Linked DNA regions of Homo sapiens: all the other regions are linked to region 3. The links come from fine-mapping of genetic effects on gene expression. A gene starts in region 3. Each other region holds a variant in brackets. All regions are shown on one strand. Distances are between the middles of the regions. Region 1 overlaps RBM23 (RNA binding motif protein 23). Region 2 holds the start of HAUS4 (HAUS augmin like complex subunit 4). Region 3 holds the start of PRMT5-DT (PRMT5 divergent transcript).

Region 1 (8,176 bases), 37 kb before region 3:
AGAAGTTTGAAACCAGCCTGGGCAACATGGCAAAACCCTGTCTTTACAAAAAATTAGCTGGGTGTGGTGTCATTCAGATAGTCCCAGCTACTTGAGAGGCTGAGCTGGGAGGAACCCTTGAGCCAGGAAGTTAAGGCTGCAGTGAGCTGTGATTGTACCACTGCACTGCAGCACGGGCAACAGAGCAAGACCCTGTCAAAAAAAAAAAAAAAAAAAAAAAAAAAAAAAGCAGTGCACCTGTAGTCCTAGCTACTCAGGAAGTGGGAGGATTACTTGAGCCCAGGAGTTCAAGGCTGAAGTGAGCTGCAATCACTGCCTTCCAGCCTGGGTGATAGAACGAGAACTTGTCTCTTTAAAAAAAAAAAAAAAAGGGCCGGGCGCCATGGCTCACACCTGTAATCCCAGCACTTTGGGAGGCCAAGGTGGGTGGATCACAAGGTCAGGAGTTCGAGACCAAGCTGGCCAATATGGTGAAACCCCATCTCTACTAAAAAGTGCAAAAATTAGCTGGGCGTGGTGGCAGGCGCCTGTAATCCCAGCTACTAGGGAGGCTGAGGCAGGAAAATAGCTTGAACCCAGAAGGCAGAGGTTGCAGTGAGCTGAGAACGTGCCACTGCACTCCAGCCTGGGCGACAGAGTGAGACTCCATCTCAAAAAACAAACAAGCAAAAAAAAAAAACCTATATAAGGTGTTACTACCTGTTTAACAGTAGAAGAAACAGAGTGTAAGTAACTTGCCTGAGGTTACCCGGTAAGCAGTAGAGTTGGGATTTCATGTCTGCTTGATACTTTTTTTTTTTTTTTGAGATGGAGTCTTGCTCTTGTCACGCAGGCTGGAGTGCAATGGTGCGATCTCCACTCACTGCAACCTCCACCCCCCGGGTTCAAGTGATTCTTCTGCCTCAGCCTCCCGAGTAGCTGGGATTACAGGCACCCACCACCACGCCCAGCTAATTTTTTGTATTTTTAGTAGAGATGGAGTTTCACCATGTTGACCAGACTGGTCTTGAACTGCTGACTTCAGGTGATCCACCCACCTCAGCCTTCCAAAGTGCTGGGATTATAGGCGTGAGCCACCGCGCCCAGCTCTGCTTGATACTTAATGATGATTTTATCCAGCTTTGCATCTGAGGCTCCCTTTCCAATAAGGATGGGAGGAAGAGAAAGAGGGGACAGCAGTCAAGATGCGGGGACACAATGGGCAGGGCCATGTGCAGTGGCTGTGGTGAAAGGTCCAGAGAAATTACATGGCTGTAGTGGAGTAAGCAAGTTCTAAATTCTGAAGACCATGAACAGAGGCAGCTCAAATTTTAAAACACAGGAAAACACACTGGGCCCATTAAGGGACCAGATGGCTGTACAGTTGGGTTGAAACCTCAGGGACATGAAGAGGAGGGGTAAGAGATGAGCATGGAAAAGAAGGTTTGGAGTCCCACTGTAAAGGACCTTAAATGCCAGGAAAAAGAGTTTGTGCCCAACTCTGTAGGCAGGGAGAGTCACTGCAGGTATCTGAATGTGGAAGTCATGATTAGGATGGTCTTTTGGGAAGAGGAGGCTGGGAGAGGTGTGTATGGATTGGAGCTGCAGAGGCAAGTACTGAGGAGCTGAGTTTAGGGACCAGTTAATAGTGATACATACAGAGGATAATGAAAGGCCATCCTGAGGGGGGTGGCAGTGGGAAAGGAAGGAGGCATGGGTTTGAGCATCAGAATCAATGGGACTTGGCAACTTAGTGGATGAGTATAAAGAGAGGAAAAAGTTGTAGGTGGTGAGAGGATGGTGCAGAACTTGGAGTAAAGGGGCAGAGGAGGTAGTGAGAGTAAGGAGCTCCATTTTGGAGACACTGAATTTGAGATGCTAGAAGAACATCTATATAGAGTTTCAGCAGCTCTCTAGAGTTGAATCTGAATCTGAAATTCAGAACAAGTTGGGACAAGAGAAACAGATTTGAGAATAATTACCATAAAGATAGTAGTAGAAGAGCAAGGAGAAAAGGTGACCTGTGCAGTCACATAGGGCCCTAAGCTTAGTTTAATGTTCTGCTGTTATGTTCTTAAAATTCTTCGAACAAGGAGCCCTGTATTTTCATTTTGCAAGGGGATCCACAATTATACTAAGGGAGAAGGTGCAGTACAGGCTGGGATCCTTACCCCAGACTACTGATGGAGTCTGCGTCTTGTGAAATGGTACATACAATCTGATGTATTTGTGTAGTCATACCTGTGTCTGAGAATAGGGTTCATGAATTTCATCAGATTCACAAAAGGGTTTGTTACAGGCCAGGCACAGGATGGCTCATGCCTGTAATCCCAGCACTTTGAGAGGCCGAGGCGGGTAGATCACCTGAGGTCAGGAGTTCGAGACCAGCCTGGCCAACATGACGAAACCCCATCTCTACTAAAAATACAAAAATTAGCTGGGCATGGTGGCACATGCCTGTAATCCCAGCTACTTGGGAGGCTGAGGCAGGAGAATTGTTTGAACCCAGGAGGTGGAGGTTGCAGTGAGCCGAGATCGTGCCACTGTACTCCAGCCTGGGCAACAGAGTGAGATTCTGTCAAAAAAAAAAAAAAAAAAAAAAAAGATGGTACTGGCTGCTTCTGGAAAGGGGAACTGGGTGAGTAGAAGACCAGGATGGGAAGCTGACTTTTCATTGTATGCCCTTTTTCTTTTCTTTTCTTTTCTTTTTTGAGACGGAGTTTCACTCTTGTTGCCCAGGCTGGAGTGCAATGGCACGATCTCACTGTAACCTCCGCCTCCTGGGTTCAAGCGATTCTCCTGCCTCAGCCTCCCGAGTAGCTGGGATTACAGGCATGTGCCACCACACCCGGCCACTTTTGTATTTTTGGTAGAGATGGGGTTTCTCCATGTTGGTCAGGCTGGTCTCAAACTCCCAACCTCAGGTGATCCGCCTGCCTCAGCCTCCCAAAGTGCTGAGATTACAGGCCTGAGCCACCGCGTCCAGCCTGTATGCCCTTTTTCTACCTTTGGAAATTTTTTTTTTTTTTTTTGAGACAGAGTCTTGCTCTGTTGCCCAGGCTGGAGTGCAGTGTGGCACAATCTCAGCTCACTGCAAACTCCACCTCCTGGGTTCAAGCGATTCTCCTGCCTCAGTCTCCCGAGTAGCTGGGATTACAGGTGCCCACCACCACGCCCAGCTAATTTTTGTATTTTTAGTAGAGACGGGGGTTTCACCATCTTGGCCAGGCTAGTCTTGAACTCCTGACCTCATGATCCACC[C/T]ACCTCAGCCTCCCAAAGTGCTGGGATTACAGGCGTGAGCCACCGCGCCTGGCCTACCTTTGGAACTTTTAACTGTGTCATTTAGTACCACTTCAAAAATGAAACGAAATAGGCCGGGCACAGTGGTTCACGCCTGTAATCCCAGCACTTTGGGAGGCCAAGGCCGGTGGATCATGAGGTCAGGAGTTCAAGACCAGCCTGGCCAAGATAGCGAAACCCCATCTCTACTAAAAACTACAAAAATTAATCAGGCGCAGGGGTGGGCACCTGTAATCCCAGCTATTCGGGAGGCTGAATCGCTTGAACCTGGGTGGCAGAGGTTGCAGTGAGCTGAGATCATGCCACTGCACTCCAGCCTGGCGACAGAGAGAGACTCCGTCTCAAAAAAAAAAAAAGAAAGAAACAAAATAATTTAAAACAAAGCCTTAGGGGTCCAGAGAAAGAAGAGGGAACAAGGAGATCCTGGGGATATATAGATGGAGAAGGTGGAGAAGCAGCTGCCAAAGAGGTAGTGGGAGAACTAGGATTGAGCCTGTTGTGACTGCTGCCAGAGGAGGGGTTTCTAGGAGAGTATCACCAATGGTCAGATGTGGCCAGAGAGGAGGATGAGGAACAAGAAAGGCCCAGTGCCTTTTACGTGGCAGAAGCTTAAAACATGTCTTTCGTGTATGGAAGACCATGATGGCAAGACCTCCCCCACGAGGGGAGCCACACACCATGAGCCTCCCTCCCCCAACTCAGCCAGTCCCATCAGCCCGACCCATCTGTGTGTTCCCTCCAGACGCCTACAGGGAATAGCTCAGAACAGACGGAAGCTGAAGCCAGGCTCCCGCCAGACTTGGGAGAGGTGAGGCCTTCTCTGAGAGCCAGGCCATTCTCTCTTTCTCTCTCAAGGCAAAGTAGAGCCATTGATCTTGGCTGGGGTGAGAGGTCAGCAGAGGGCACTGGGACCTGAGCTGCCATGCCAGGTAAGGTCCTTTCTGTCCTCATGCATCTCTTAACCACTGCAATTTTGTCTTGGAGTCCGTGTTCCCTTACCAGCCCCTGCCCAGCCCCTGCTACTCCCACTCCCCTTTGCCCACAAGACCGCCTCATTGGCCCAGAGCATAGACTTTGTGTGCTCTCCCCTGAGGGTCAGAGGAACGGGGGAGTCCTGCATCTGGAAATTTTTCCACTCTGGGCCTCTGCCTACAGATGAGCTTTTAGGCCGTGCTGCATCTGAGCCCTCTAGAGAGACTGGAACAGGGGCTCTTCTCTTCTGAAAGACTGCCGGGGTCATACGTGGAAGTCCTCTGGGTTAAACCCTCACTCCCAGGAAGTTCACACACACACATCTTTTTATTAATCTAATATAGTTTCAATCCACATCAATCTAAGTAAATTTTCCTGGACATTTTAATCTTTCATCCACAAATGCTAGAAGACATTTTGTTTCTCTCAAGTACTAAACATCTGCAATATGCCAATCAGTGTGCCGGGCCCAATGGGGAAAACAAATACAAATAAGACACAATTTCTGCCCGTCAAATAGCTTGCAATTAAGCTGGGGAGATGGATGAGGTGATACAGCACAAAACAGGCAAAATAGCAGCAAACAATACCACATTCTATCTAACTGGGGGCTACCTCATGTGCTCCAGGAATTCTGAATGGAAGAAACAGTAAATTTGGAAGACATATTTTAGAAACTGGGCCTTAAAGGATATGTAGGCTATAGATAGTTGAGAGAAAGAAGGAAAAGCATTCCTTGTGGTCAAACTACATGAGCAAATGCACAGAGAAGAAACAGTGGGCAGCCCACCACATGAGGAAAAGGCCCTTCCTATAAAGAAGGCAGCAAAATTTGGGTGGATGGTGCAGTCGTCAAAGGACACAAATGCCGGACAAGAGCATACTGCTTCTCAGGCCTTTATCATCTCGGTGACTCCCTGATGGATATGCTTAAGGTCCCTTTTCATCTATTTGAATATTGATGTCAAGTTTCCACAGCTTAGTGGCCTTGAAAACTCCAGATGTGAATGCAAATTCAGTAAGCCCTTGAATGCTTTTCAATTAGTGCTCAGGATGTTTCCTGGATGGGGGTCTGTGGATGAAGTCACTCTTAACCTGTCTGGTTTGCTGAACTCAGCTATGCTATCCCAACTCTAAAATGAAGAATACCTACCTTATAGCGAAGTCATGAGGACTAAATAAAAGAGCAAAGATCTTTGTAATTTCTCAAGCATTATACAGAGAAGCGGTGGAAGTAGTAATGCCTTTTGCAACCTATGTCCTGGCCCTTTATTTAGGCATCAAAGCAGCTTGCTAAACTCTCAAAGCACAGCACCATTTGGAGATAAAAATTTAAGTTATGGTCTACAAAGTCCAACGTGCCTTCCATAGGACTCACGGGTAACACTTTTTTGGGTTTTGTCATCTGATGGAAGGTTGGGGGACAGATTGGCAATTGAAGCTCCACGATGGTATTTTACTGCATGATTTTCCATTTTTGTGTTCAAATTACAACTTGACTTTAAGCAGAGGACCTGTGCTGATTTAAAATACTTACTCAGGTCGGGCAATTGGCTCACGCCTGTAATCCCAGCACTTTGGGAGGCCGAGGTGGGTGGATCACTTGAGGTCAAGAGAGAGACCAGCCTGGCCAACATGGTGAAACCCTATTTCTACTAAAAAAAATTACAAAAATTAGCCAGGCATGGTGGTGGGTGCCTGTAATTCCAGCTACTCGGGAGGCTGAGGTGGGAGAATCACTTGAACCCGGGAAGCAGAGGTTGAAGTGAGCAGAGATCGCAGTGAGCAGAGATCATGCCACTGCACTCCAGCCTGGGTGATAGCATGAGACTCTGTCTCAGAAAAATACATAAATAAGGCCCAGCCGGGCGCAGTGGCTCACGCCTGTAATCCCAGCACTCTGGGAGGCCGAGGCGAGCGGATCACTAGGTCAGGAGATCGAAACCATCCTGGCTAAAACAGTGAAACCCCATCTCTACTAAAAAATACAAAAAATTAGCCGGGCATAGTGGCAGGTGCCTGTAGTCCCAGCTACTTGGGAGGCTGAGGCAGGAGAATGGCATGAACCTGGGAGGCAGAGCTTGCAGTGACCCGAGATTGCGCCACTGCACTCCAGCCTGGGCGACAAAGCAAGACTCCATCTCAAAAAAAATTAATTAATTAATTAAAAATAAATAAATAAGGCCCAGTGCAGTGGCTCAGGACTGTAATCCCAGCACTTTGGGAGGCCAAGGCGGGTGGATCACCTGAGGTCAGGAGTTCGAGACCAGCCTGACCAACATGGAGAAACCCTGTCTCCACTAAAAATACAAAATTAGCTGGGAGTGGTGGCGCACGCCTGTAATCCCAGCTACTCAGGAGGCTGAGGCAGGAGAATCACTTGAACCCAGGAAGCAGAGGTTGCGGTGAGCCGAGATCGCACCATTGCACTCCAGCCTGGGCAACAAAAGCGAAACTCCATCTCAAAGAAAAAATAAAAATAAATAAATAAAAAAAATACTTATTCAGAAAGGAAAATGCCAGTGTAGGGCTAGGCTCTGGAGACCAACAAAGACAGGTGCTTGGGGGAGGCTGAGACGCTAAGGAAAGGGTGGTAACAGAGGGTGCTCTCAGGCAGTTGTGGTGGCTCACACCTATAATCCTAGCACTTTGGGAGGCTAAGGAGGGAGGATCACTTAAGCCCAGGAGTTCAAGACCACCTGGGCAACATAGCAAGACCCCATCTCTACAAAAAATACAAAACTTAGCTGGGCATAGTGGCACATACCTGTAGTTCCAGCTAATCAAGAGGATCATTTGAGCTCAGGAGGTTGAGACTGCAGTGAGCTGTGATGGCACCACTGTACTCCAGCATGGGCAACAGAGCCAGACCCTGTCTCAAAACAAAACAAAACTGAGTGCCCTGGTATTTTTCCCCTGCCAGACAAAGCTAATGGTGTTAGGTACCTTGAAGGTACCTGTGAGGGGGGCTCATTTTGATTTTTCGAAACCATCTGGTTAAAATCTAACTATGTGGACAGAGCCTCAAGCATAAAGAGATTGGGCTAGTGGGATCTGTTTTCCTGAAAACTAGGCAGGTTGTGTGTGACCCAAGACCTTGTAAGCTTGGGGCTTCAGTGCAGGAACAATTTATTTATTTAAAAATGAAGATTTATTTTCACCATTGCACTGCCCTTGCTTTTCCCCATAAACCTTGAGCTCTAAAGTTGGGGAGAATGAAGTCAGCTAGAAAATCAAGTGAGTAGGCATCCAGAGGAGTGAAAATACTGAGGACAGTAATGAGCCAAGTTCCAAACCTTTCTCAATGAATTCTCACAACATCCCTATGAGATAGGTGTTATCATTTCCTTTTTACAGATGAAGTGTGAGAGAAGTGAAGTAACCTACCCAAGCTTATTCAGCTAGTTTGTGAGGGAAGAGGGATCTGAACCATGCTGTGTGGTTCCAGAGTGTGACACTCGGCTACAGGGTGGAGGTCCCCTAGCTTGCTTATGCTCAGGAGTTGAGGAGGCGAATTCTTAGCACCACTAATTCTAAGCAAGTAGGCTTCCTGATGCCTGAAAGCTGACTGAAACTCCCATCCTTTCTGGAACATTGGCAAGTTTGACGGGTCTCCGATTTCCAAGGTCATTGTTTCTCCTTTCTACAATCCGGCACTGACTGGCTGCTTTCCAGTCTTCAGGCACCTCATCCATCTACCCATTGCTCTCAAAAATAACTGCTTAATGGCTCTCCAGAAACTCCAGCCAACTCCTTAAGGGCTCTTGAGAGCAGATCATCTGAACAACTAATAGACTTCATCCAACTTTTTGAAGTGATCTTTGCTCAGCTCTTTCCTTGCACCCACCTTCCCACGTGATCTAAGTTGGTTGGTCTGCTTCACCTCACTTTCACAGAGCTCTCTCAACCAAGGGCACACCAGAGA
Region 2 (8,158 bases), 24 kb after region 3:
CTTTGGGAGGCCAAGGTGGGTAGATCATGAGGTCAGGAGACTGAGACCATCCTGGCTAACACGGTGAAACCCCGTCTCTACTAAAAATACAAAAAATTAGCCAGGCGTGGTGGCGGGCACCTGTAGTCCCAGCTACTCGGGAGGCTGAGGCAGGAGAATGGCGTGAACCTAGGAGGTGGAGTTTGCAGTGAGGTGAGACTGCGCCACTGCACTCCAGCCTGGGGGACAGAGCGAGACTTCGTCTCAAAAAAAAAAAAAAAAAAAAAAGAGATACACATTCATTCAGGGTGGTCAGACTCAAATAAGAAAATCATTACACAGAAGCAAGTAAAAGCTGAAATATGAATACTACGTCTAGAAACACATTATTATAAACAGCTTGACATAAATGGTATTATACCCTCCAAGCTTATACAGAGAGTATAAGGTGTTCTATGAGTCTGAACTTTCCTCCCTAAACCATTCTGAACCTCCTGAGAGAACTCATCCTTCCCTGCAGCAGGAGGACACTCCCACTCAGTATCTTGCTGAATAAAAAGAGTCCTTACAAAGGTCCTTGTTTTGGCCGGGTGTGGTGGCTCACACCTGTAATCCCAGCACTTTGGGATGCCGAGGCAGGCGGATCACCTGAGGTTGGGAGTTCCAGACCAGCCTAATCAACATGGAGAAACCCCATCTCTACTAAAAATACAAAATTAGCCGAGCGGGGTGGCGCATGCCTGTAATCCCAGCTACTCGGGAGGCTGAGGCAGGAGAATCACTTGAATCTAGGAGGAGGAGCTTGCGGTGAACAGAAATGGCGCCATTGCACTCTAGCCTGGGCAACAGGAGCAAAACGCCATCTCAAAAAAAAAAAAAAACAAAAAAACAAAAAGTCCTTGTTTTTATTCTACCAGCAACAAAACAAATAAGCATCTCTGATGGTTCTAAACCTCTGTCCCAAATCTAAAATCAAAATATATTATTCTCAAAAGAGCAGACCAGGAACCCTGAAGTCCAGCTGTGAGCAGAACAGACAGCTAGCACTCACCTGAATTGGGATCATAGTAGCAGAGCAGAGTGAAACATTTCTTTTTGAGCTGCTCCTCTACTTCTTGCTGTAGCCGAGCCCTCATCCACACAAAATCCTACAGTCATAGAAGTAAAGGCAGAAATGCGAATAGACTGTAAAAACTAGGACGTCTCAGCCAATGAATACATGATGATAACCTCAATAATAGCCAAAGAAAATGCATCAAGAGACATCAGAGAGACTCATTTTTCACCTATCAAATTAGCGAAGAATAAAATGACTGTCAAGACCCCATGTTGGTGAGAACATGGGGGATCCAGGAGCCCTGAAAATACCTTTCTGGATAGCAGTTTGGCATTAGGTACCAATATTCTGTATGAGTATGCACTGACTCAGGAATCCCACTTTTAGCACCAGCATTACAGAAATAATCATACAAAGGTAAAGACACATATGAACCAGCATGTTCATCTCCCTGTGGTTTCTAACAGCAAAAATGTGGAAACAACCTTAATATCCACCAATAAGGTTAAGCAAATTATTCTACATCCATATAATAGAATCCTAGCAGAGATTTAAACTGATGACATAACACTAAGCACTATGTGCCTAGATACTTTGCTAACAGTGCTATAGAAGCTATCATCTTATTTACATTTATGTATTGACTTGAAAAGAAATCCAAAATATATTACATGAAAATAGACTGTACTTTTCTTTTTTTGAGACAGGGTCTCACTCTGTGCCCAGGCTGGAGTACAGTGGCATGATCACAGCTCACTACAGCCTTGACCTCCCACCCTCAAGTCATCCTCCTGCCTCTGTCTCCCGAGTAGCTGGGACTACAGGTGTGCACCACCAAACCTGGCTTTTGTTTTGTTTTTTTTTTGGTAGAGACGAGGTCTCACTATGTTGCCCAGGCTGGTCTTGAACTCCTGAACTCAAGTGATCCTCCCACCTCAGCCTCCCAAAGTGCTACGATTATAGGCGGAAGTCACTACACTCGGCCTTATACTCTCTATATAAGCATGAAGGGTATAATACCATTTATGTCAAGCTGTTTATAATAATATTGTGCTTCTAGATGCAGTATTTCAGCTTTTACTTGCTCCTGTGTAACGTTTTTCTTATTTGAGTCTGACCACCCTGAATGTGTATCATTTTTACAAAAACAATAAAGCTTGACAAAAAAAACATTTTAAAGATATGGGAGAAATTAAACCATTTCATTTATTTGGTTCCAATATCTCCCCGCCAACCTCTGAGAGTGGCATGAGTTCCAGAAGGTCCGCTTTCTCCAGCCCCAGCAGTGGAGGTATCTCCCTCTCCTGGCTAGGACCTAAGAGCCGCATCAGTTCAGTTACAAGCAGCCGCTGTTCAAGGGTCTCATGAAACTGAGAGAGAGAGAATAAAAAACAAAAAGAGGCAACTATAAAACTTCTCCCACTCCACCTCTTCCATCCTTATGAACCAGTTTTTCACATATTTTCAAAGTCCTCAAATATATCATCCCCCCTCAGATAACTCAGCTGCGAGTGACTTCTGTCAATGTTTCTATTACAAACTCTGATAACACATCCACTCCTTCCCCATAACTACAGTCCATTTCTCTTTTGACAAACCATTTCTCAAAGCTCCTACTTCCCCTAGATCACATCATCAGACAAAGCCACAGTTGGCCTGGTCATTCCTGTAACTGGTAACCAACCCCACCTCATTTCTTTCACCTCACTTTTTTTTGAGACTGAGTTTCGCTCTGTCACCCAGGCTGGAGTGCTGTGGCGCAATCTCGGCTCACTGCAATCTCCGCCTCCCAGGTTCAAGCGATTCTGCTGCCTCAGCCTCCCGAGTAGCTGGGATTACAGGCGTGTGCCACTGCACCTGGTTAATTTTTGTATTTTTAGTAGAGACGGGGTCTTACCATGTTGGCCAGGCTGGTCTCAAACTCTTGACCTCAAGTGATCAGCCTGCCTGGGGCTCCCAAAGTGCTGGGATTACAGGTGTTAGCCACCACGCCCAGCCTTTGCCTCACCTTTTTGTCCTCAGAAGTTACATTTGTGTCTTGTATCTTCACATAGTAGTCCACAAGCAACTCTTGAATGACTCTGTGTAAAATCTCAGACCTCAACCATGTTGTCTTATGCAGTCGAACTTCCTTCCATGCCTAGAAATCCAAAAAATCTCAGGTAGGAACCTCTCTCTCAGGATTTTCCCTTCTTCTTATCTCTTCTCCCAAAGCCCTTACCTGAGCCTGCTCCTTTGCTAGGGTGAGGCTTAAGCCACTCTCATCCACATGCTGTGAGAGATTCAGGAGAAGCTTGCTGAAGTATGGGTTCTGTAACAGGTCCTCTTTACTCAGGTTACAAGGAGGAAGTTGTTTGCTGCACACTTAACATCATGTCCCCACAGGTACAAAAAAACAAAAAAGGTGTGGACTCTTACTTTACATAACTGAGCATAACTTAATACTTCCAAAAAACCCCTAGGATTTTTATAGGAAAGATTGCTAAATCTAATGAGATTTTTTAAAAATCCACAAATAAACAAGGGTAATATTCAAGGTAACAAGCATTTATATTATATACAAGGATATTAAGGGGGAATAAGTAATAAACTAAGATCTTAGGAAACGGAAATGCAGTTGGTACATATTAGACAAATAGAATAAAAATTAAGGGACCGTTAGTAGGAATCACAATACACAAAATGCCTCATTCATCCAAAATTAATAGAGTTCTTGAAGTAGGGGGAAAGAAACACAACACGTGAAGTTCCAACTTTGGATGTGATATGTAGTCGCATAAACAAGACTAACAGAATACACTTAGAGTAAGTTAAACGTTCAACTAACCAATTTTTTTTTTTTCTTTTTGAGACAGGGTCTCACTCTGTCACCCAGGCTGGAGTGCAGTGGCACAATCACAGCTCACTGCAGCCTTAACCTCCCCAGATCAAGCGATCCTTCCACCTCCTGAGGAGCTGAGACTACAAGGCAAACCACGATGACTGGCTAATTTTTTTTTTACAGACAGGGTCTCACTACATTGCCCAGGCTGGTCTTGAACTCTTGGGCTCAAGTGATCCTCCCACCTTGGCATCTCAAAGTGCTGGGATTACAGGTGTGAGTCACCACAGCTGGCCCAAATTCTTTTTTATTTTTTTCTTTTGAGATGGAGTTTTGCTCTTGTTGCCCAGGCTGGAGTGCAATGGCGTGATCTCGGCTCACTGCAATTTCCACCTCCCGGGTTCAAACGATTCTCCTGCC[T/A]CAGCCTCCCGAGTAGCTGGGATTACAGGCATGCGCCACCATGCCTGGCTAATATTTTTTGTTTTTTGTTTTTTTTTTGAGACGGAGTCTCACTCTGTCACCCAGGCTGGAGTGCAATGGCACGATCTCGGCTCACTGCAAGCTCCACCTCCCAGATTCACGCCATTCTCCTGCCTTAGCCTCCCAAGTAGCTGGGACTACAGGCACCCGCCACCACGCCCAGCTATTTTTTTTTTTTTTTTTGTATTTTTAGTAGAGGCGGGGTTTCACCTTGTTAGCCAGGATGGTCTCAATCTCCTGACCTCGTGATCTGCCCGCCTCGGCTTCCCAAAGTGCTAGGATTACAGGTGTGAGCCACCGTGCCCAGCCTCTAATTTTTGTATTTTTAGTAGGGACGGGGTTTCTCCATGTTGGTCAGGCTGGTCTCAAACTCCCAACCTCAGGTGATCCGCCCGCCTTGGCCTCCCAAAGTGCTGGGATTACAGGCATGAGCCACCACACCTGGCCAGCTGGCCCAAATACTTATAATTGTCAGTAGAGTTGAGTAACCCATGTAGATACAAAACAGCACAGGCATGAGAAAAAAGTGTAAGAAATTGAGATCCTCTGGTTTTTCCATATGCTCAAGGAGCTTTCTTTCCATTTCTTTTTCCATATGCTCTCTGTTGGGGTCTTTTACCTCTACTTGCCAAAACACCCAAATTTTCATTCTTTGGAACATTATACCCAAAGTCTTTTTGGGAAATAAGAAATCTCTCTTTTTCCCTAAGGTACTGAAGCATCCAATATGGAAATAGTCAAGATATAGAAAATGCAAGCTCTTGAAGGATTCAAGATATAGAAAGGATCTGAGATATGGAAAGAACTCAGGATATAGAAGGATCTGAAATTTTGGAGACTAAGATATGAGAATATTTAAGACACAGGTAGGAAGGACACCTTCAAGGAATTTGCTGGCTACCCTTATTTTTATAATATGCTTGCTAACATCAGCATGGGAGCATCTTGAGTTTTTAGCCTACTACACAAGCAGATATTGAACCAACATTAACAGGAATTAGTGTAGTCTGTTTTCCAATAAGAGAGTGTTCAAGGATCTTCATGTATTCCAGTTTCCTCAGAAACACATGCTTCTGTGAGGAAAACCATACTGGGGAAACTTATAAATCCTTTTTTTTTTTTTTTTTTGGAGTCTTGCTCTGTTGCCCAGGCTGGAGTACAGTGGCACGATCTCAGCTCACTGCAAGCTCCGCCTCCCAGGTTCACACCATTCTCCTGCCTCAGCCTCTGGAGTAGCTGGGACTACAGGTACCCACCACCACGCCCAGCTAATTTTTCGTATTTTTAGTAGAGACAGGGTTTCACCGTGTTAGCCAGGATGGTCTCGATCTCCTGACCTCGTGATCCACCCACCTCAGCCTCCCAAAGTGCTGGGATTACAGGTGTGAGCCAATAAATGCTTTTTACTAGAAAAGGCAAGAACCTGGATAAGACCTCTCTGGATAAATCATCAAACCTTTTGCAAGTGGCTACTCTTACCTTGTTGAAGTATTTCCATCCCTTCTCCAGGTGAGCAGAAATCCCCGGATGCCATTTGATTTTCTTGGGATTCTAATCTGTGGAACCAAGAAGTGAAAGAAAACAAAAAGATGAATAAACAGCTGGCTGCTCCAAGGACACTACCTTATGTTCAAATTTCTGCTGTCCACAAGCTGGAAAGGAACCTCAAGGATGACTTTTACAGAGGGCCTATACCACACATCCTGGGTCCCAAGCTCTTACACAAGCTTTATGGACAAACAGATTTACAAGTGCCAAAACATGTCACATTCTAAGCACACATGTGTTTCCACTTGCTCCAAGCTGTCCAAAAGGAGCATCCTAAAAAGAGAACTTTCCAATTCACTGAGTCTAAACAAGAGGATTCTCCACCACCACCACCATTATGCCAAAGTTAAAACTGAGCTGCAGCTTCCCAGTTATGAGTGAACTGGGGGAAAAGGGAAAAAAATCAAAGTCTACTTTTTCCCCCCAAATAACTCAGCTATCAAATTCCATAATAGTTTTTTTGTGCTTCTTTTTTTGTCTAAGATCTGTTGGTAGTTTTTTTTTTTTTTATCATTAACTCTAGAATCATCCTTCAGGAATGACAAATCATTCCACACTTGAACAACTGGTTTTCACATAACAGCCTAAGAAAAGAGCACCTGGAGGAAACAGCGTGACAAGAAGACTGACAGTGAGGTCAGTGGCAAAAGAGTAATGCAAAGGTGTAATGTGGCTACAACGAGAACGTGAGCTGTGGGTGTTTTGCCAGAACATGGAGTGCGCTGAAAGGAATGACACCAACACAGGGGCAGTAAAGATGGGCACAGTTTGACCTCAGGAGACAAAAATTTTCCCTTGACATTACTTTTCATGTTTTTGCTCTGCCCCTCCTCTCTGCAAGGTATCAAACTCCAAAGGGCAACTGAGCCTCCCAAAGCTGAACAGGCATTGAAGGTTATTATGATTTAACGCTTCATGTTTATAGAACATTTGGTTTACTCGATCGTTTTATGAGTAACATCAAAGTAACTACTCATTTGTTTTCTAACATGGTCTAGAGGGGGACGCAGCTGAGGAGGCAGAATGCTGGGACTTAATTTGCAGCTCGGCCGGCCGTTGCTTCTGAGAACTTAAGGAAAATGCTTTTTTCTGTGCCAAACTTTTCCCACCTGCAAAACTGAGATAACGATTCCTGCCTTGGATGAGACATTAAGAATTAATAACACAATCGACTTGTCAACAAAAGCCACTACTTAGTTAAGTTCAGTGTTTTAACAATTCTGTTTATCGTTGATCTATGACTGCAAATAAAAAGTTTTGCAGGCAAATTTCGCACTTGGAAATGAAGACCAACCCAAATTCCAAAAAGCTAGCTGTTCGTCCCCCCCTAGGGTAAGTGTCCCCTTGCGTTTTTTAGGGTGCCTTTCTTTACCCTTCTTAAAGGTTACAGGGCGTGAACGGCAATCAGGCTCGATTCTCCACCCTCTGCACTCAGACGTGTTAAAACGCTGCTACAGGGACCCAAGCATTTAAATGTTCTGACTCAGGCGTCTTTTAAATTCTTAGAGCTGTCTTTACACGCTGCACTGAACGTTAAATTGATTTTACAGGTTATTTTCACAAGATATGACCCTTACAGGGCCCGAGATGAATCAAAATGCAGAACGGGCTCTCCGGCGCCTACTTCCCTTCTGTCTGGGCGGCCAAGGATTCCCAAGAGCGACGACGGTCTCCGGCCACTGGCCGGAATGACTCTCCCAGAGCTCCTCTTCCCCGAAGCTCCGCCCGCCGACCCTCTAAAGCAAACCTGCACACCCTGGGGCAGCTGAAGCTCTCAAGGCGGTGCCGAGAACCTCGGCTGGGGCGGGCTGGCCAGCAGCGTCTACACCCCAGAACCCGCCCGCGCCGGGGCTCCGGAACCTCTCGTTCGGGCCGGGCGCAGGGGCTGGGGGAAGCGAGGCCCGGAAAGACCAAGCTGAAAGGCCCGGGAAGGGGAAGGAGCCGAAAGTGCACTAGAGGCCGCGACGAAGGAGGTGGAGGCGGGGCCACACTCGAGGCGGGAACGGCAGGCCCCGCCCCTCGACGGGTGCGCGCTGGGTTCCCAACGCCCTGGGTTCGCATGCTCGGGTGGTGGAACCCGGACTGGGAAACAGGATGGTCTCGGAAAGGCTTTTTTGCCCCTTCTCATTAGTGCCTCCCCAGTGAAGGGCAGATGCTGAGAAAATGGTGGTAATTGCTAACATTTATTGAGGGCCTACGATGAGTCAGGCACTACGCCAAGCATTTTGCTTGCCTTGCCTCGTTTTTTTTTTGAGACGGAGTCTCGCTCTGTC
Region 3 (8,176 bases):
AGCCTCCCAAGTAGCTGGGACTACAGGTGCGTGCCACCATGCTTGGCTAATTTTTGTATTTTTAGTAGAGACGGGGTTTCACCATGTTGGACAGGCTGGTCTCAAACTCCTGACCTCAGATGATCCATCCGCCTCAGCCTCCCAAAGTCCTGGGATTACAGGCGCGAGCCACTGCACCTGGCCCAGACCAACAGTTCTCTAGCGTCTGTCCCAATACCAACAAAGGCAGCATGAGGCTTCAGTAAACTTATAAAAAGCCCCCTTGGCCGGGCGTGGTGGCCCACGCCTGTAATCCCAATACTTTGGAAGGCCGAGGCGGGTGGATCATTTGAGGTCAGGCGTTCAAGACCAGCCTGGCCAACATGATAAAACCTGTCTCTACTGAAAATACAAAAATTAGCCGGGCAGTAGTGGTGCATTCCTATAATCCCAGCTACTCAGGAGGCTAAAGCAGAAGAATCGCTTAAGCCTGGGAGGCAGAGGTTCTGGTGAGCTGAGATGGTATGGCTGCACTCCAGTCTGGGTAACAGAGTGAGACCCTGTCTCAAAAAAAAAAAGAAAAAAGAAAAAGCCCTCTTATGCCATGAAAGTATCAACACCCAAACAGCCTCATGGATCCTTGCTGTAACTTCCTAAATGAAACCTTCTGCAAAGTTCTCATGAGGTTTGGTTTGTTTTGAAAGGTTTCTAGGGCTACTACTGGCATTTACCTTTTTGTTCTCAAGATTCCCAACTTCACTGAAATTGCTCCCCAGAAACCAAAGAAAAAGAGTCAGCCTCACAGGAAAAAACGATCATACACAGGTAAATAAGGCAAGATGTATAGCTGGACTACCTTTAGAACCCTCCTACCACTCACCTTGAGGAGCCGGAAGATGAGCCTCTGGTGCATCTTAGAAAGAACAGGAAATCCCTTCTTATTGGTCAGGAAAATGCTAGTGGGGAGAATGGCTGCTTTGATGGGCTCCCCAAGCCAGCGATCAATGACATGATTAGATGGGAGGTCAGCCCCAATTTCAAGAGCTACATGAGGCAAAAGAAAAACTGTCAACCACTGCCAGGCAAGAAACCCTTCCTTGCTCCTTTGCGCAAAATCTGTTTACTTCTTTAAGAGAAAGCCAGTCTGAGACAGAGGGGAAGTAGCAAAATTGTATACTATATATGAAATTCCTGATTCTTATTCACAGGAGGTAAGAGAAGCCACACCCATCCCAGGATTCTCATGGACTCACCCACTGCAATCCTCTTACTATAGTCACACAAAGTCCGGAAGTTGTGCCACCTGTTCAGTCAAATACAGAAAAGTACAGTAAACTAGATATGGCCGACCAATCACCACAGCTCAAGGAGACCTCCCTACAGGTTGCACCCTGTACTTCCCCTCACCCTATCCCTTGCACCCTGGTACAGCAGCAAAGGGAGACATACCACATCCACGTTTTCTCCTCCCCACTGTACTCCTCTGTGTGTGTAGTTGGTGCATTCTCAATTATATCATCTCTCAGGTCCTCTGGTGCCACCAAGGGTACCCGCATCCAGAACTGCACATGAACAGTCACCCTTTTAGAACTCTCTTTTGAACTCATTGGGTCCAGAAAGTTTCCCTCAATAAAAAAAACTTCATCCAGACCTCGTTAATCCCTTTATATGCTTTTCCCAATTTGTAATTTTGTAAGTGAACATGTACCTTATATATAGATCCTTATGTAAATATCTGCCTTGTCTTACGTAAGTTTCCAAAATAATTACATTTACATGTTTTGAAACTCTCTTCATACCACTTTTAGATGGAGAGGTGCGCAATACTGACCTTTTTTTTTTTTTTTTTTTGAGACAAGGTCTGGCTCTGTCACCCAGGCTGGAGTGCAGTGGTGCAATCTCAGCTAACTGCAACCTCCGCCTCACAGGTTCAAGTCATCCTCCCACCTCAGCTTCCCAAGTAGCTGGGACTACAGGCGTGTGACACCCCACCTAGCTAATTTGTGTTTTTTTGTTTTTGTTTTGGTTTTGGTTTTTTATACAGACAGGATTTCACCACGCTGCCCAAGCTGGTCTCGAACTCCTGAGCTCAGTGATCTGCCCACCTCAGCCTCCCAAAGTGCTGGGATTACAGGCATCACCCACTGTGCCCGCCAATACTGATACTTCAATTCTGCCAAACACACCCTTCACTGAATGGCTAGGCACAAGAAGGTACTTAGCACAATCTGACTACTATGATATGCAGCAGGAAAGGAGCCCCTCAGCTATACCATGGAAGAGTGATGGCCAGTGTGGATGTGGTTGGTCAAAACTCTGGCCAGGTTGGTGTTATCTTCCTGATTAAGGGGCAGCAGGAAAGCTGGAAGACCCAAATATGCACCAAAATTCAGCTCCTGTAACATGGCCTGGAACGGAGATGAAGAGGAAAAGTTTGAGCTAACAAGCAAACAGCTTTTTTTTTTTTTTTTTTGAGACAAAGTCTCACTCTGTCACCCAGGCTGGAGTGCAGTGGCACAGTCTCCACTCACTGCAGCCTTGACCTTCCCAAGCTCAACTGATCCTCCCTCCTCAGCCTCCTGAGTAGCTGGGACCACAGGCATGCACCACCATGCCTGGCTAATTTTTGTATATTTTATAGAGATGGGGTTTCACTACGCTGCCCAGGCTGGTCTCGAAATCCCGAGCTCCAGTGATCCTACAGCCTCAGCCTCCCAAAGTGCTAGGATTATAGGTGTGCACCACAGCACCCAGCCTAATAGCTTTAATTTCATTCTATCAGTTAATTTACCAAGTTATTGGGGATGGGAGGGGACCACTCTCCCCACCCAGCTTGGTTAGAAAAATCCAGCAGAGAAGTCAAACAGTCTTACCGCCTCGGAGTTCCTGCGAATCTTCTCCACTTTTGAGTCTGGACGAATCCATGGAGAAAGCTTTCCCACAATTAGCGTATTCCAGTCTGCACTCCCCCACCCAAGAAAGACAAATACTGAATAAGGTTCAGCACTTTACTTGTTCAATTTTTAGTTTTGGGAATCAAGAGTAGAAATGAGAGACAAAGGTTTTTTCTACATAGACATGGGATAGCCTGATGCAGAATAGAGAAGCAAGGAGAAAACAAGTTATCTATATCCCAGGGACTAACAAATATATCCAAGTCAGAAAAGGAGGAGAATGAGGGCCCCGATAAAGCAGAAGTTGTTATTGCCTCTAATAATTAAGGGGCATATGGGATGGTCCCTACCCCTTCCTGACAGCAGTAGGTCTGATCGTGTCTGGGGACCGGGCCGATTCTTAGCAGGTTCCTGAATGAACTCCCTCTTGAAACGCGGATGGAAGACAGGCATGCAGAGGAAATCAAACCTACAACCGCGACAGACCCAGAATCATGTAAAGACAGCAGCAGTGCCAGAGAGCCAAGCAACTGGATTTAGGCTATCTTGATTTTGCACAGCCCTTTCAGCTGCCATCAGTTCAGCCTACTAGGCTGCTGAGTTCAGACCACCTTGGGGGATATCAACTCTGCTGTACTGTGCCTCAATTTCTCCCTAAAACACAGCCATGGGACATATGAGTAAGGAGAAAATGATGGATATCCACAAGTAGAATTTTTTTCTCCTCAGGTGTCAGTATGTTTCCAAGACCATCACATCCAGATTTGCCCCAGTTCTGCCCATGCCTCCCCCGTCAAAATTAGCCTCTTCTCTCCCTTGCCCCCTAACACCTCCTCCCACTCCCAGACAATAATCGCGACCTCCAGGGCCCTTTAGAGTTTACCCAACAACTCTCCCAACTTTGGGACTCAGTGACCACAGGCCTCCCACAAGTTATTTTCCTCACGTTACTGGGTCCGAGGCTCCTCCCCTCCAAAGAGTAATAGTCTCTCCCCTCCTCATCCTAGCCGACCCCCTCACCCCTGCTTCTCCGGGATGACTAGTCTGCCCTTCTCCGTCCCCGAGTTCGGACCCCGCATTCCGCTCGTGGAGGTCCGGCCCTCACCCCTGCTTGGCCACAGCCCCTAGTGTGTCAGCTATTTCGGGGACGCAATTCAGGTCCCTCCCGCTGGACACGCGGCTCCCACCAGCACCCCCGACCGCCATCGCCGCCATCTTTCTCCTCGCGCTGTCCACGCCGGGATTCCTTGATACTAGTAGCCAATCACAAAGTCAAACTAGTGCCCCAGAAGGCGGGACGAGTCGCCTTAACAACCAGAGCGTCTGCCACAGCTCCCGAACAGGAGGGATGGGGAGTGGCTTTTCCTGCCAATCCGCGGGCTGCACAGTGGCGTACGGCATGGATCCACCAATCTCAGGGTCTGGTTCCTGACGAACTTCAATCTCCCAGAATGCTTAGTCTATCTGAAGAACGCCGTTGAGAGACTACACCGCCCATGAAACCCTGCAGTATAACCTTGAAGTACCATCACGGAGAGAAACAGTGCCATCTCAGGGCCAGTGGCGCAATGGATAACGCGTCTGACTACGGATCAGAAGATTCCAGGTTCGACTCCTGGCTGGCTCGGTGGGGTTCCTCGCAGCTTCGCTGCGTGAGCATTTTGTAATTTTCCTTTCCTTTCGCAGCTTGATGCTTCTTTATTATCTTCACGCTTTCATTATCAGATCCTGAGTCGGTTGGGTTATGCAGCCATGTAATGTCAGCTTTTCCCGTAACTACCCTCAAAAGTGTTTTTCTTGTGTCATTATTTACGTCCATATGAACACTGAGAAAACTGGGTTAATGGCTGGTGCTATTAAAATGAGCTTTGTCACCTTACTATGTTACATATTAAAATAAACTGCTAACTCAGCTACTACTTCCTAGTGATTCTAGGAAGTAGTGTTTTGTGTTTCAAACACAAAAGGTGTAAATAAACGCCTAAACACACACACACACCTCAAGATAGAGAAAAGGAATTCATTAATTACAGTGGGCAGCAGTCATGAAATTGGCTGGCATGGAGGCCAGAGAGAATCTACATTTTCTCATGTCATTAGCTGCTAGAGATGGAAAGGAAGGAAGCAAGGAAAGACATAGGGAGGTAAATGGGAACTCCAGAAGGCAGGGGGCCCACTGGTGTTGAGGGCTCGGCAGCAAGGATGGAGAGGAGAACACGGTACAAGAGACCCCACGCAGGCGCCGCTGGCAGAACTTAGGGACCGACTGGCAAGGAGTCCTGAGAAAGCAAAGTAGGGGGTGATGCCTAGGATTCTGTCCATGCAGTGAGCAAGAAATGCGGAAAGAGGGTTTGGGAAATCAGGGTTTGGGTTTGGTCATGCTGAATTGAACGTCTAGGGGGCGCTGTGTAATAGAAAGTTGGATGGAGGTCGCTAGAAGAAAAGAACTGAGGCCATGCGACTGAGATCACCATAGCTCGTTGGGGACAGAGCCATAGGAAATACGAAAAGGGTGTGGGGTAGGATAAGTTCTGGGGAACCCTGGGTGCAATGCAAGTGCCCCAAAAGAATGAAAGCCGGAAAACCGGCCGGGCGCGGTGGCTCACGCCTGTAATCCCAGCACTTTGGAAAGCGGAGGCGGGTGGATCTCCTGAGGTCAGGAGTTCGAGACCAGCCTGGCCAACATGAAAACTCCCCGTCTCTCCTAAACGTGGTAGCAGGCGCCTGTAATCCCAGCTACTCGGCCAGCTACTCGGGAGGCTGAAGCAGGAGAACTGCTTGAACCCGGCAGGCGGAGGTTGCAGTGAGCCAAGATCACGCCACTGCACTCCAGCCTGGGCAACAAGAGCAAAATAATGTCGGGGCAGGGGGAGGAGGAAAGGAAAGTCGGAAAAACCAAAGCATTTAAAAAATGCACCATGAAGGCCAGGCTGGGCACAGTGGCTCACGCCCGTAATCCCAGCACTTTGGGAGGGCGAGGCGGGCGGATCACCTGAGGTCGGGAGTTCGAGACTACCCTGACCAACACGGAGAAACCCATCTCTACTAAAAATACAAAATTTAGCCAGACGTGGTGGCGTGCGCCTGTAATACCAGCTACTCAGGAGGCTGAGGCAGGAGAATCACTTGAACCTAGGAGGTGGGAGGTGGAGGCTGCAGTGAGCCTAGATCATGCCGTTGTACTCCAGCCTGGGCAACAGCAAGACTCCGTCTCAAAAAAAAAAACAAAAAAAAACCCCAGCACTTTGGGAGGCCGAAGCAGGCGGATCACGAGGTCAGGTGATCAAGACCATCTTGGCTAACACAGTGAAACCCCGTCTCTACTAAAAAAAATACAAAAAAAATTAGCCGGGTGTGGTGGCAGGCGCCTGTAGTCCCAGCTACTCAGGAGGCTGAGGCAGGAGAATGACCCAGGAGGCAGAGCTTGCAGTGAGCCGAGATCGTGCCACTGCACTCCAGCCTGGGCGAGAGAGCGAGACTCCATCTCAAAAAAAAAAAAAAAAAAAGCTCCATGAAGCCTGAAGTGATTGGAGGTGCTTTTGTCCACTATTATCGTTACTATTTTTCTGCTCCAGGATCCCATGCAGCATATCATATGACATTTAGTTGCTATGTCTCCTTAGGCTCCTCTTGGCTATGACAGTTTCTCAGATGTTCCTTGTTTTTGATGACTTTGGTAGTTTTGAGGAGTACTGGTTAGGTATATTGTAGGATGCCCCTCTATTGGAATTTGTCTGTTTGTCTCATGATTAGACTGTGTTTTGGGAAGGAAGGTCACAGAGTTAAAGTGCTGTTTTTGCCGGGGGCAGTGGCTCAGGCCTGTAATCCCAGCACTTTAGGAGGCCGAGGCAGGCAGATCACCTGAGGTCAGGAATTCGAGACCAGCCTGGCCAACATGGTGAAACCCCGTCTCTACTAAAAATACAAAAATTAGCCAGGAATGGTGGCATGCGCCTGTAATACCAGCTACTCGGAGGCTGAGGCAGGAGAACTGCTTGAAACTGGGAAGCAGAGGCTGCAGTGAGCCGAGATCACACCACTGCACTCCAAGCCTGGGTGACAGAGCGAGACTCCATCTCAAAAAAATAAAAGTGCTATTTTAATCACATCATATCAAGGGTACATACTATGAACATGATTTATGACTTAATGTTGACCTTGATCACCTGAAAAGAAGTAGTTTATCCAGTTTTTCCACTGTTAAGTGATTCTCTCCCACCCTCTCCCCGGCCCCAACTTTCCATACTGTATTCATTGGAAGGAAGTCACTATGCTCCCCCTCCTTAGAGTTGGAGTATCTACAGAATTTATTTGGAATTCTTCCCTCCAGGTCTTTCCAATAAATGGTTGTTCTCAGCAAGTGGGTGAGTACTCCACCAGCATTTTATTTATTTATATTTTATTTCATTTTTCATTTTATTTTGAGACAGAGTCTTGCTCTGTCGCCCAGGCTGGCGTGCAGTGGCATGATCTCAGCTCACTGCAACCTCCACCTCCCGGGTTCAAGCAATTCTCCTGCCTCAGCCTCCCAAGTAGCTGGGACCACAGGTGTGCACCACCATGCCTGGCTAATTTTTGTATTTTTAGTAGAGACGGGGTTTCACCATGTTGGCCAGGCTGGTTTCAAACTCCTGACCTCAGGTGATTCACCCACCTCGGCCTCCCAAAGTGCTGGGATTACAGGTGTGAGTCATGACGCCCCACTTTCACTGGCATTTTAAGAGGTAAAAGAAAGAGTTGTTGAGGAGGTCTGCTTGTTCTCTGCCCTAGTTGTGCCCAGCCAAACTCTACATTCACAGAAGACTTGTTAGATGTTTTTTCTTCTTTAGAAGCTAATTGTCTAGATTGTGGACCATCTGTGCTCCTGGCATCTCACTCCTGATGTCAAGCAGGTAGCTGCTCTGTTGGTTGTTAACTAACCCATCATGGGTGACAGGGAGAGAGGACAATCTATAAAACAATAATGTCAGTTTTGCCATCAGTTAAAGTAATTTTCTAAAGGATTCATGTAAAAAGAACCTAGAATTTCTGACTGACCCTAAAGTAAGTTTACATGGGCTGAATTTCTTTGGTCTGTGCTGTCTTTGTCTTTTCATTCCAAATGGCCTCGGCATTGTGGCTAGCATCATGCTGAACAGTTCTCAGTAACTCCATACCACGTTGCTCTCAGCCTTTTCTATAGCACTTTCCTGTGCCATAAAACACAGCATGTAACCGTGGGTCTGTCTACATGAGTTGTAGAGGAGCAAGAAGGGAAGGAATGAAGAGAAATAGAGCGCCTTGAACAGGTCCTGTCCCTAGGC

What was found. PIP is the estimated chance that this variant, and not a neighbour inherited with it, causes the effect.
Region 1: its variant is fine-mapped to the expression of PRMT5-DT in whole blood (TOPMed, PIP above 0.99).
Region 2: its variant is fine-mapped to the expression of PRMT5-DT in lung (GTEx, PIP 0.99).

The regions. Positions count from the first base shown.
Region 1 is chr14:22,888,645-22,896,820 of GRCh38, forward strand. RBM23 (RNA binding motif protein 23) reads right to left here. Exons shown (of 14, transcript NM_001077351.2): 14 at 4,560-8,176. Among named protein-coding and RNA genes, the nearest start is that of REM2, 9.5 kb to the left of the region's middle. The variant C/T (reference allele first, on the strand shown) is at 3,241.
Region 2 is chr14:22,949,284-22,957,441 of GRCh38, forward strand. HAUS4 (HAUS augmin like complex subunit 4) reads right to left here and starts at 7,807. Exons shown (of 10, transcript NM_001166269.2): 1 at 7,633-7,807; 2 at 5,817-5,893; 3 at 3,258-3,400; 4 at 3,045-3,176; 5 at 2,272-2,406; 6 at 1,031-1,127. The coding sequence starts at 5,871. It overlaps PRMT5-DT (PRMT5 divergent transcript), which reads left to right. Exons shown (of 3, transcript NR_110002.1): 3 at 5,048-5,409. It overlaps MIR4707 (microRNA 4707), which reads right to left and starts at 7,746; the gene lies at 7,667-7,746. RefSeq lists enhancers at 7,499-7,628, 8,011-8,158. The variant T/A (reference allele first, on the strand shown) is at 4,278.
Region 3 is chr14:22,925,274-22,933,449 of GRCh38, forward strand. It overlaps PRMT5-DT (PRMT5 divergent transcript), which reads left to right and starts at 4,336. Exons shown (of 3, transcript NR_110002.1): 1 at 4,336-4,479. It overlaps PRMT5 (protein arginine methyltransferase 5), which reads right to left and starts at 4,103. Exons shown (of 17, transcript NM_006109.5): 1 at 3,979-4,103; 2 at 3,224-3,342; 3 at 2,853-2,938; 4 at 2,253-2,387; 5 at 1,429-1,541; 6 at 1,233-1,282; 7 at 860-1,023. The coding sequence starts at 4,088. It overlaps TRR-ACG1-3 (tRNA-Arg (anticodon ACG) 1-3), which reads left to right and starts at 4,428; the gene lies at 4,428-4,500. LOC124903285 (a long non-coding RNA gene) reads left to right here. Exons shown (of 2, transcript XR_007064073.1): 2 at 1,188-1,629. RefSeq lists enhancers at 689-1,888, 3,947-4,056 and a silencer at 4,467-4,556.